2 separate regions of the Homo sapiens genome follow, and region 2 is linked to region 1. The links come from fine-mapping of genetic effects on gene expression. A gene starts in region 1. The other region holds a variant in brackets. All regions are shown on one strand. Distances are between the middles of the regions.

What was found. PIP is the estimated chance that this variant, and not a neighbour inherited with it, causes the effect.
Region 2: its variant is the best candidate, but not a certain one, in a credible set for the expression of ADAM11 in aorta (GTEx, PIP 0.57).

What each region holds. Positions count from the first base shown.
Region 1 is chr17:44,756,540-44,761,908 of GRCh38, reverse strand. It overlaps ADAM11 (ADAM metallopeptidase domain 11), which reads right to left and starts at 2,921. Exons shown (of 27, transcript NM_002390.6): 1 at 2,649-2,921; 2 at 2,012-2,187. The coding sequence starts at 2,709. RefSeq lists an enhancer at 2,729-3,280.
Region 2 is chr17:44,838,731-44,844,099 of GRCh38, reverse strand. No RefSeq gene overlaps it. Among named protein-coding and RNA genes, the nearest start is that of HIGD1B, 6.5 kb to the left of the region's middle. The variant G/T (reference allele first, on the strand shown) is at 2,925.

The DNA of each region.
Region 1 (5,369 bases):
GGAGGTTAGGGTGAGCAGAGATCACGCCATTGCACTCCAGCCTGGGCAACAAGAGCAAAACTCCATCACACACACACATAAACACACAAAAGTTACAAGCCTTACAGAGTTGTGAGAAATAAGTGATGTAGAGTGCATACAAAGCTTGGCAGAGTGGCCCATAGAAGTCCACAGCTTTGGTACCTCAGGGGAAACTGAGGCACAGATAAGAGAGGGCCCCAAACAAGTCCCTTGAGGAGGTCGCCATGAGGGCCCTAGGAAGTCTCAGTCTCAGAGAGACCCCAAAATTGGAGATAATCACTGCCCGGCAGATCCATGGAACTCCATTCCCTCCCCGCAGGCTCTCAGACACCCCTCAGAAGTATCTGGAATCGGTGGATCACATACACACCTCACATGCACTCACTCACCTGCAGAACAACACAGAGACCCCCAACCCAAGCAGTTCAACTGCACCCATCCTGACCTTCCCACGCAGCTGCAGACACCACCACAGCCCAGAACCTCCTACCCTTTGCCACCTCTGTCTCTGTTCGGAAAGGGTCAGGCTGAAGGAGCAACCTGCCCAGTTGGAATACCTGACTTTTCATCCCTACCTGACTCCAGGCTTTTCCTCAACTCTGTCCCCTTTCCCTGCGGTGACATCCCTCCATGACTCAATCTGCACATCCCTTAAAGCATAAGCCAGAGTCCCAGCAGTCGGGCAGACCATCAGTTCCCCCACAGTGTAACCACGGGGTGCACAGTTCACAGGTAGGGAGTGACACCAGGCAAGACAGCCAGACTCAGCGGCCAGGACACCCCATCCCCGGCCCTAGGACTGCACACCTCCCAGGGAGCCTGGGCAGTTGCTGAAGGCAGCTTCCACCCCCCACCCCACCCCCAGTGACTGCGGGCCTTGGACCATTAGCCCCCTCCCCCTGCCCCTCTGCACGGCCCTGAGTGATGGTCCATCTATTATGCATGCTCCCTTCCTGCTCCATCCATTTCATCAGTATTCTCCACCCCTGCACCACCCCGCATCCCCCTCTGCTCCCCTCCCTTAAGGGCTTTTAACCAAGTACATTAGGCAGGGCCAGATGCCAGTCTGACAGATGTCCGTAATGTTAGCCTCCGTTTCCCTCCTTCCTCCCTCTGCCCAGCCCAATTTACCTCCCACCACTCCCCGCTGCCAAAACTTCCCAGGCCTCAGTTGTACCCCTCTTCTGGGTCTCCCCCCTATACCTCCTGTTTGTGCCGGGCCTTTGCCAGCCAACCTGCCCTCTGCTGCCCTGTTGGCCTGGCTCACTTTCAGCTCCAGCTCTTGGAGCGCTGGGGTGTGCTGAATGAATATTCCATCTGGGTGATTATTATTCACATGATATTAATTAATTATTAATTGCAATTAATCTCCTTCATGCCTAACCTTCCTCTGGGAGGCAGGAGGGGCCTGGCAGCTGAAAGGGACAGTGGGCAGGCAGGTAGAGCTGGCTTGGGGCCTCAAGTTATTTTCCAAGGCCCCACCTTCAGCCAGGACAGGAAGAACAACAAGCCTATCTGGGCACTGTGTGGAAACTGAGGCAGGAGCAAGCACTAAGTTGTTCCAAGAAAGCCCACTAAGGTGGCTGTGGTGAGAACCTGAGAGCCCTAATCCCTGACTGGAATCTGGGCTGCCTCTCCCTGCCCCCAACTTGCCCCATCCAAGCCCTGTTTTGAACAGAACAACTAGCTTTGGCCAGAGCAGAGCAGGGGGCCATTGGAAGGCTGACCCAAAGCAGACCTGAGACCTAGGCATTAGTGGTCCCTGTACACTGAGGGCAGGGGACCCTACAATAATGGAAGGGGGCCCTGGGGCTGGGCAGGCCTGGTGCTCCCCACCAGTGGGCTCCAGCACCCACCGGATAGCCCACTGTACAGAAGGGGACCCTGCGGGGCAGCTGCTGAGGGGGACTCCAACCCTGGTTACCCCGTGGGCTTCCTGGGGCTCTGAGGCCTGCTTCAGCCCCTGGCCTCACCACCCAGCCCCACTCACCGGGCCCCCTGGTGGCTCCTGGCGGACCCTTGTGTCCAGCTGCTGCTTTCGGACCTCTCCCCCGGAGCTCTCCCTAACCAGACGGCTGGGTTCCGTGACCTCAGGGGCTCCTGGGCCTCCCAGCTGGGGTAAGCCCCCCCATCGCAGAGCTCCAGCAGGACCTTGGGTCCCAAGACCTGGGGAAACAAGGCCATGGCTGCAGGCAGCTGCCCACCCTGGGGCAGAAGACTTGGGAATGGGGTGGGCATGCCTCATCCCCCACTCTGGTGTGGCCCCTGGAGCCCTAGGGCGATCCGGGTGGGAGGATCTGGCTGCCCTGCAGAGGCAAGAGCCCGCGGGGAGGGGGCCAGGAGCTTCACTCCCGCCCAACCGTCACGACTGCCCCCCCATCCGCCCAAACCCGCAGAGACCTGCAGAGCTGGCCGGTCGGCGGCAGGGGCAGGGACGCGGTGGGCCCGGCCAGCTGGGGACAGGTGGGTGGACGCACCTTCCCTCCTCTCCCGCTCCCCTACCCTCCCGCGCTCCGGACCGGCTGTCACCCCGAGCACTGCAGGAAAAGGTGGCTGCAGCAGCAAGCGCCGCACATCCCGGGGCGGGGGCAGGGAGGGGGCGCCGGGGCCGGGCGGGGGTCACTCACCGGGCGTGGGGAGCAGCGACAGCAGCAGAGCCGCGAACGCCCAGCGCCGCAGCAGCCTCATGGCTCGCTCATTCCTCCCGGTCCGGGGGCTGCGGCTGCCAGCGGCGCGGGGAGGGCGGGAGCAGGGACGGGGGTGGGGAGGCGCCAGCTGCGGAGCCGGGGCGGGGGCGCGGGGCCGGGCGGGGGTCGCGGAGAGGTGGGGGCGGCAGGGACGGCGCCGGGGCTCAGCGCGCTCCGGCCGCGGCCATCCCGGCGGGGCGGCGGGGCCGGGTTAAGAGCTGAGCAGCGAGCACGTGAGCCCAGGGCCCGCCCTCCGCTCTCCCGCCGCCCCCCGGCCCCCCCAGCCCCGCAGGGCCCGGGCCGCCGCCGCGGCAGGACAAAAGAGGCGCCGCCCCGGGGTCCCTCCTCGCACCTCGAAGTCTCCTCGGCAGGTGCGGGGCGGTGGCGCTCCGCGTACTTATCCCGCGGCCTCTCCTCGGCCACCTCTGCCTGAGCATCTCCGAGGACTCGTAGATTTGTAGGGGAGGGAAGCAGGGGACGGGGTACCCCCGGGGTCGACCCGGCGACTGCCTGTCTGGGGCCCGGGGGCAGGGGCGTGGCTGCGGCGCCCACGTTCGCCCCTCTGTCGTGGTACCCCAGAGAGGCTGCCCCAGCCCCAGCTTGGAGCGCCCCGCTTGACCCCAGGCTGTGGAAGCTGGGGTTGGGGTGGGCAAAGGCTCTTGGCGAACGCCGGGCTCTACGCCTCTGGGATTTCTTGCACCTTCGCTACGGGTCGTGTCACTGCGGAGTCCTCTCACGCCCGCGGTACAGACCCCTTCCCATCGGCTCCTTCTCCCCGCCAAAGATGCCCCGGCCTCCAGGAGGGCTTCAGGGATCGCTGTCACTCCAACCATCAGGAAGGGCTGGCATGTCCGTCTGGGTTCCTGAGTCTCTCACAGGCGTCCTGTCCTTCCTCCTAGATAAAATATAAACTAGCCAGGTCACTTATATGCTGCTAGCATGCCCCATGGCTCCCCCTCCCTTGCTAGTCCCAATCCTTAGGAGCAGAAGACACCTCTGGAGCCCCCCAGCATTCCCTCTCTGGTCAGACTAGGCTGCCCTGTCTGCAAAATACTTGACCTCCCAACCTACATTCCCAGCTGTGCCCTCCACCCAGCTCCTGGGGATGTTGGGTCCCAATACCAGGGCTGGGACCTCAGACTTCTGCTAGGGGTGCTGAAGGCCAGATACCTGAGATGGTGTGGGGTGTGGTAGGGCATGGTGGGTGGGCCGCTGAGTCCCCACCCTGACCTTTTTGGTACCCATGCTAGGGGACCACAGGTTGCTGAAGAACAAGATTGGAGGCAGGAAACCCCTTCCTGGGTCCTCTGCTTCCGCAAGGACCCAGGGCCTCTGCTGGGGATGAGGGAACTGCCTCTAGCTTGTGACACCCCCACCCCCCGCTCTATTTTAGGCCCAGGAGAGGTGAGAAGGCGATTTCCCAGGAGGCGCTGACATCAATGTAGGGAACCAAGTGACTCCCCCCACCCCCAACCACCTGCCATGCCAGGCCCAGATGCTCAGTAAGGCTGAGCCAATTCTTCCTTCGCTCTGGAGACATCTTGAGAACCTCCTCCAAGATGTAGGCATGAGGAGGCTCCTGGGAATGAGGGCCTACTAGGTGGTATTCCTGGAAACTCATCATGAGCCCAGAGGGAGAGATTGTGCTCCCCATTTTACAGATGGGGAAACTGAGGCTCTGAGAGGTTATGTGAGCTTCTCAAAGTCACACAGCTGGTGAAAGGCACATCCCATACTCCATGGCCCCACTCCTCTTAGCCACCCCTAGTCCTACTTCCATCTCTGCCCTCCATTTGGGACCAGAGGGGACTGGTATATCTGGTCCCATGCACCCTCACCACACACCCCAGACACGAAGGTGGCTGTCCTGCTCCAGCCTGCCCATGTCCCAGGGCCACATCAGCAAGTCCCGATCAGGAGTGCCCCCCAGTAGGCTGGGTGAGGTTTGTCATTTCACAGTGCGAGCCCGGGGCTGGGAGAGTCTGGGTCCTCCAACATGTTCAAGACCACAGAGCAAGCCCAATCTGTGGTCCAGGCCTCTTCACCAGAGGCATGTTCCTACCACATCGGTGGCCCTGGGACCCTAGACTTCCTGTTGGGGAGACCTGATGAGCCCTAAGAGTGACTCTCCCTGGTGGCACCCTGGGCTAGTTCCAGTGGAGACTCGGTCATATGGCTCCCTGGCCCCCATAGCCACTTATATTCCTGGGTTCCCCGGCTCCCAGCAGATCTGGCTAGAACTTACTTTTTTTTTTTTTTTTTTTTTGAGACAGAGTCTGGCTCTGTCGCCCAGGCTGGAGTGCAGTGGCACGATCTCGGCTCACTGCAAGCTCCGCCTCCCGGGTTCACGCCATTCTCCTGCCTCAGCCTCCTGAATAGTTGGGACTACAGGTGCTCGCCACCACGCCCAGCTATTTTTTTTTTTTTTTTGTATTTTTAGTAGCGACGGGGTTTCACATGTTAGCCAGCATGGTCTCGATCTCCTGGCCTCGTGATCCACCCGCCTCGGCCTCCCAAAGTGCTGAGATTACAGGCGTGAGCCACCGCACCCGGCTAGAACTTACTATTTTTTTTTTTTCTTTTGGAGAGTCTCGCTCTGTCACCCAGGCTGGAGTAAAGTGGCAAGATCGCGGCTCACTTCAACCTCCACCTCTGGGGTCA
Region 2 (5,369 bases), 82 kb before region 1:
TTGTTTTTGTTTTGTTTTGTTTTGAGACAGAGTCTCACTCTGTCACCCAGGCTGGAGTGTGGTGGTAATCAAAGCACACTGCAGCCTTGAACTCTTGGGCTCAAGGGATCCTCCAGCCTCAGCTTCCTGAGTAGCTGGGATTACAGGCACATGCCACCACGCCTGGCTAATTTTTGTATTTTTAGTAAAGATGGGGTTTCACCCTGTTGGCTAGGCTGGTGTCGAACTCCTGGCCTCAAAGTGATCCACCCACCTCGGCCTCCCAAAGTGCTGGGAATATAGGCGTGAGCCACCATGCCCGGCCTCCTTTGTGTAGATTAATTCTCACGATAGCAATGAGGTAGGTGCTATTATTATCCGCACTTCACAGGCAAAAAACTGGGGCTCCATTAAGCGTTTTGCCCAACAGTAAGTGACAGAAAAAAGACCAGACTTCTAACTCACTACTCAGGACTAACTTGAGAGAATGTAAAGTGGAGGGCAAATCTTGAAATAGAAGAAGTAAAATTGCTTTGTATTTCAAAAACTTCTGAGAACATACAGTAACTAAAAAAAACTTCAAGGAACAGATTTTTGTAGAGTCCTGCTTTAGTAAACAGATAAGATAAAATTATGATAGCATCATTTTTGTGAACATGCCGAGTCTTTAATGTTTTCCATTTATGCATTGCTACATTAGTAATTTGTTTAGGAGACCTCTTTTTCTTCCAAATCAGGTCACATCAATAGAAATTCTGATTTAGAGGGGCCTAAATCAATGATGCGGACAGACTTAGCATAGGCAAAAGTCAGACGTGGGATCAGTTAGCCCACAGACCAACCACTCTAAATATTGGGTTATGCCATTTAATCTCTTAGAGTCTTTGGCTTCATTGGTAAAATCAAGATAGCACCTGCCCATAGGATGATCGCAAGGGTTAAAAGAGAATTGTTAGAATTCTGCTAACTCCTGCTGCTCCTCTTCCTCCAGGAGCAAGTGGCAGGGAATGGGTAGCAGGCTGGGGGAAAAGCGGAGAGTCCCTGACAACAGATGGCAAAGTTACCATATTCTGTGTGGTTCCGAATTCAGCACAGCTTTTCTCATTCCCTTCCCCCGGACCCCCTCCTTCTTGGGCTTGCCCACCCTAACTGGAAGCTTTAGGCTTGTTCTCCCTGTTGTGTTAAAGGGGAAGGGATGGGGGGAAGGGGGACTAAGTCTTAAAGCTCTCAACACGATCTAAGGCACAGCTATGCTATTTATAGCCCAAGGGAGCGAGTGACTGGGAGGGGAGGGACAAGCAGCTTTTGCCTTGAGCTAATGGGAGCTGTAAGTGAGGGCATGATGGAGAATAGACTAGGGGACAGAGGATGCTCCTAGTTGGGGTTGGAATGGGAAGAAATGGGGTTGAAAGGCTGGGAGAATCAGAGGGGAGAAAACATTAGGGGATATAGTTGTGTCTGGGGCACTTGAAGGGTAAGGAGTGGAGTAACAGGAACAGGCAGTGGAAGTTTCTAGATAATATGGCTAGGCTGAGGCCGCTTCCTGGTGGAGGCTGTCTGTAACACCCCCACCCCCCACCCCCCACCCTTTTATAAACAGGCATTGAGTTCCAAGGACCTCCTAGCATTTGTCCAAGGACAGCCCCAAGGGCCACAGGCCTGAAGCCAGAAAGTACCTTTGGTATCCAATAATCTTTCTGAGAAGACTTCACATATTTTTTAATTTAATTTTTTTTTTTTTCTGAGACAGAGTCTCACTCTGTCGCCCAGGCTGGAGTGCAGTGGTGCTCACTGCAACCTCCACCTCCCGGCTTCAAGCAATTCTCCTGCCTCAGCCTCCCGAGTAGCTGGGACTACCCAGCTAGTTTTTGTCTTTTTGGGTAGAGACGGTCACCATGTTGGCCAGTGTGGTCTTGAACTCCTGATCTCAGGTGATCCACCCGGCTTGGCCTCCCAAAGTGCTGGGATTACAGGCATGAGCCACCACACCTGGCCAAAAGAACTTTTTTGACAACAAAAAAATCTGGTTCAGTCAACATCCCTGTGGGCAGGGGCAGGGAGAAGCAGTATAATGTGTCCCACAGGTTAACTGAAACTGCTGGGATTAGTGGAGAGGGAGGGTGGTGTTTCCCACTAATACCTCTCTCCCATTAGCAGGAGTAATCAATAACTTCTCTCTCTTTTTTTTTTTTTTTTTTTTTTGAGATAGAGTCTCACACTGTCACCCAGGCGGGAGTGCAGTGGCGTGATCTCAGCTCACTGCAACCTCCGCCTCCTGGGTTCACGTGATTCTCCTGCTTCAGCCTTCCAAGTAGCTGGGATTACAGGTGCATACCACCACACCCAGCTAATTTTTTTCAATTTTTAGCAGAGATGGGGTTTCACTATATTGGACAGACTGGTCTCGAACTCCTGACCTCGTGATCCACCAACCTCCGCCTCCCAGAGTGCTGGGATTACAGGCATGAGGCACCGCGCCTGGCAAGACTAATCAATAACTTCTTTAACAGTTCTTACTATCCAGCCAGTCTGGGGCAGGCAGGACTCCCCTGTTCCCAACAAGCAGCATTCTCAAAACTTTTTCTGGGCCGGGCTCAGTGGCTCATGAGCGCCTGTTATCCTAGCACTTTGGGAAGCTGAGGCGGGTGGATTGCCTGAGCTCAGGAGTTCGAGACCAGCCTGGAGAACAGTGAAACCCCATCTCTACTAAAAATACAAAAAATTAGCCAAGCGTGGCAGTGTGCGCCTGTAATCCCAGCTACTCAGGAGTCTGAGGCAGGAGAATCGCTTGAACCCAGGAGGCAGAGGTTGCAGTGAGCCGAGATCCACCATTGCACTCCAGACTGGGTGACACAGTGAGACTCCATCTCAAAAAAAAAAAAAAATTTACCTCTCTGGGCCTCTTTCCATCTTTCAAGACAGAAGAATCTGCTCTGAGTTTACCA[G/T]CCAAGTGGGGACCCTGGAAAGTGTGTAATGGAAATAGTGACACATTGCAGCCTTCAGATTGACCCTACTGTTCCCAAACCACAGAGCCCCAGGGCGACTCTCAAGTTCTCAAATTGGGTTTTGATCCTTTCCTGCCTGAGCCCCATGTGGATTAAAAGTGATGTGGTTCTCATAGCACCCAGCTGTACCACTCTCTGCCAAAGGCTGGAAATGAGATCCATTTCCCTGTTTGAAACTTACAGCTTTTTTCCCCTTCCCTCCAGCAGTGGTCTTTCTTCTTCTAGGGATGGTGAGCCTTCATTCACTTATTCACTCAGCATATACTTCCTAAGTACCTACAATTTGCTGGCCTCTGTTCCAGGAGCTGGGACACAGTGCCCCTGCCTTCGGGGAGCTCACGTTGTAGCAGACACCCTGGTTTGCTCCATATCCTGGCGAATGCCTGGGCCCAAGAGCCTCTACCCTGGAATTCTGACCTCAGTTTCCCCACCAGTAATGGGATTAAAGGAAATCACTAGCTGCCAAGGTGGTAGAGGAGAGAAAGAAGTCTTGACTAGAAGACAAGAGCCTTAGGTTATATTTTAGGTTTTGGGGTTTTTTGGGGGTTTTTTGTTTGTTTGTTTGTTTGTTTTTGAGACAGGGCCTTGCTCTGCTCTGTTGCCTAGGCTAGAGTACAGCCCCAGGCTAGAGTGCAGCCTCAACTTCCTGTGCTCAAACGATCCTCCCAAGTAGTTGGGACTACAGGTGCAGGCCACAAAACCTGTTCATTTTTACATTTTTTGTAGAGACAGGGTTTCACTAAGTTGCCCAGGCTGGTCTCAAACTCCTGGGCTTAAGCAATCCTCCCACTTTGGCCTCCCGAAGTGCTGAGATTATAAGCGTGAGCCACCGTGGCCAGCCTACTTGTTTTTTAAAGTATCTACAAGTGGCCGGACATGGTGGCTCACGCCTGTAATCCCAACACTTTGGGAGGCTGAGGCGGGTGGATCACCTGAGGTCAGGAGTTCGAAACCAGCCTGGCCAACATGGCGAAATCCTGTCTCTACTAAAAATACAAAATTAGTGGGCGTGGTGGCTCGTGCCTGTAATCCCAGATGTTAGGGAGGCTGAGGCAGGAGAATCGCTTAAACCCAGAAGGTGGAGGTTGCAGTGAGCTGCGATCACGCTATTGCACTCCAGCCTGGGCAACAAGAGCAAAACTCCGTCTCAAAACAAAAAAAGAAACGTTGCTCTATCAGAAGGGAGACAGAGCTGCAGGCTTGGTGGCTTGGTAATAAGGTAACAAATTAGAAAGTAGATGTATTGCCCGGTGCGGTGGCTCACGCCTGTAATCCCAGCAATTTGGGAGGCCAAGGTGGGCGGATCATGAGGTCAGGAGATCGAGACCATCCTGGCTAACACGGTGAAACCCCATCTCTACTAAAAATACAAAAAATTAGCCAGGCATGGTGGCGGGCACCTGTAGTCCCAGCTACTCCCGAGGCTGAGGCAGGAGAATGGCATGAACCCGGGAGACGGAGCTTGCAATGAGCCGAGATCGCGCCACTGCACTCCAGCCTGGGCAAGAGAGTGAGACTCCGTCTCAAAAAAAAAAAAAAAAGGAAAGTAAATGAATGTATTGTTCCCAATCTCTAGGAAGAAAGAATACGCAATGCATTTTGGGAGGGGGAGGCAGGAGGATTGACTGAGCTCAGGAGTTCGAGACCAGCCTGGGCAACATAGGGATACCTTGTCTCTACTAAAAATAAAAAAAATTAGCCCGGCATGGTGGCGCATGCCTGTAGTTCCAGCTACTCGGAAGGCTGAGGTGGGAGGATCATTTGAGCCTAGGCAGTTGAGGCTGTGGTGAGCTGTGATCACGCTGCTGCAACCAGCCTGGGCAACAGAGTGAGACCCTGTCTCAAAGAAAACAAAAAGTAAAAGAAAAAAAAAATAGGCAACAATAAAAGATGGGGAGTTTTCCCTTCCAGATTCATTCATGAATCTATGGGAAAATAATACCTAATGAACATTTGTATATATAAAAATACATTTATATATTTATAGTTTTATATATATATATATACACACACACACACACACACATATATATATATAATCAAATGTTTTAATACCATTTTAAAGGTTTTTTTTGAGACAGTCTCCCTCTCTTGCCAGGCTAGAGTGCAGTGGTGTGATCTCGGCTCGCTGCAACCAACCTCTGCCTCCTGGGTTCAAGCCATTTTCCTGCCTCAGCCTCCCAAGTAGCTGAGACTACAGGCATGCACCACCATGCCTGACTAACTTTTTTGTATTTTTAGTAGACAGGGTTTTGCTGTGTTGGCCAGGCTGGTCTTGAACTCCTGAGCTCATGTGATACACCCGCCTTGGCCTCCCAAAGTGCTGGGATTATAGGCATGAGCCACTGTGCCTGACCTTAAAGGTTTTTTTTTTATTGAGACGGA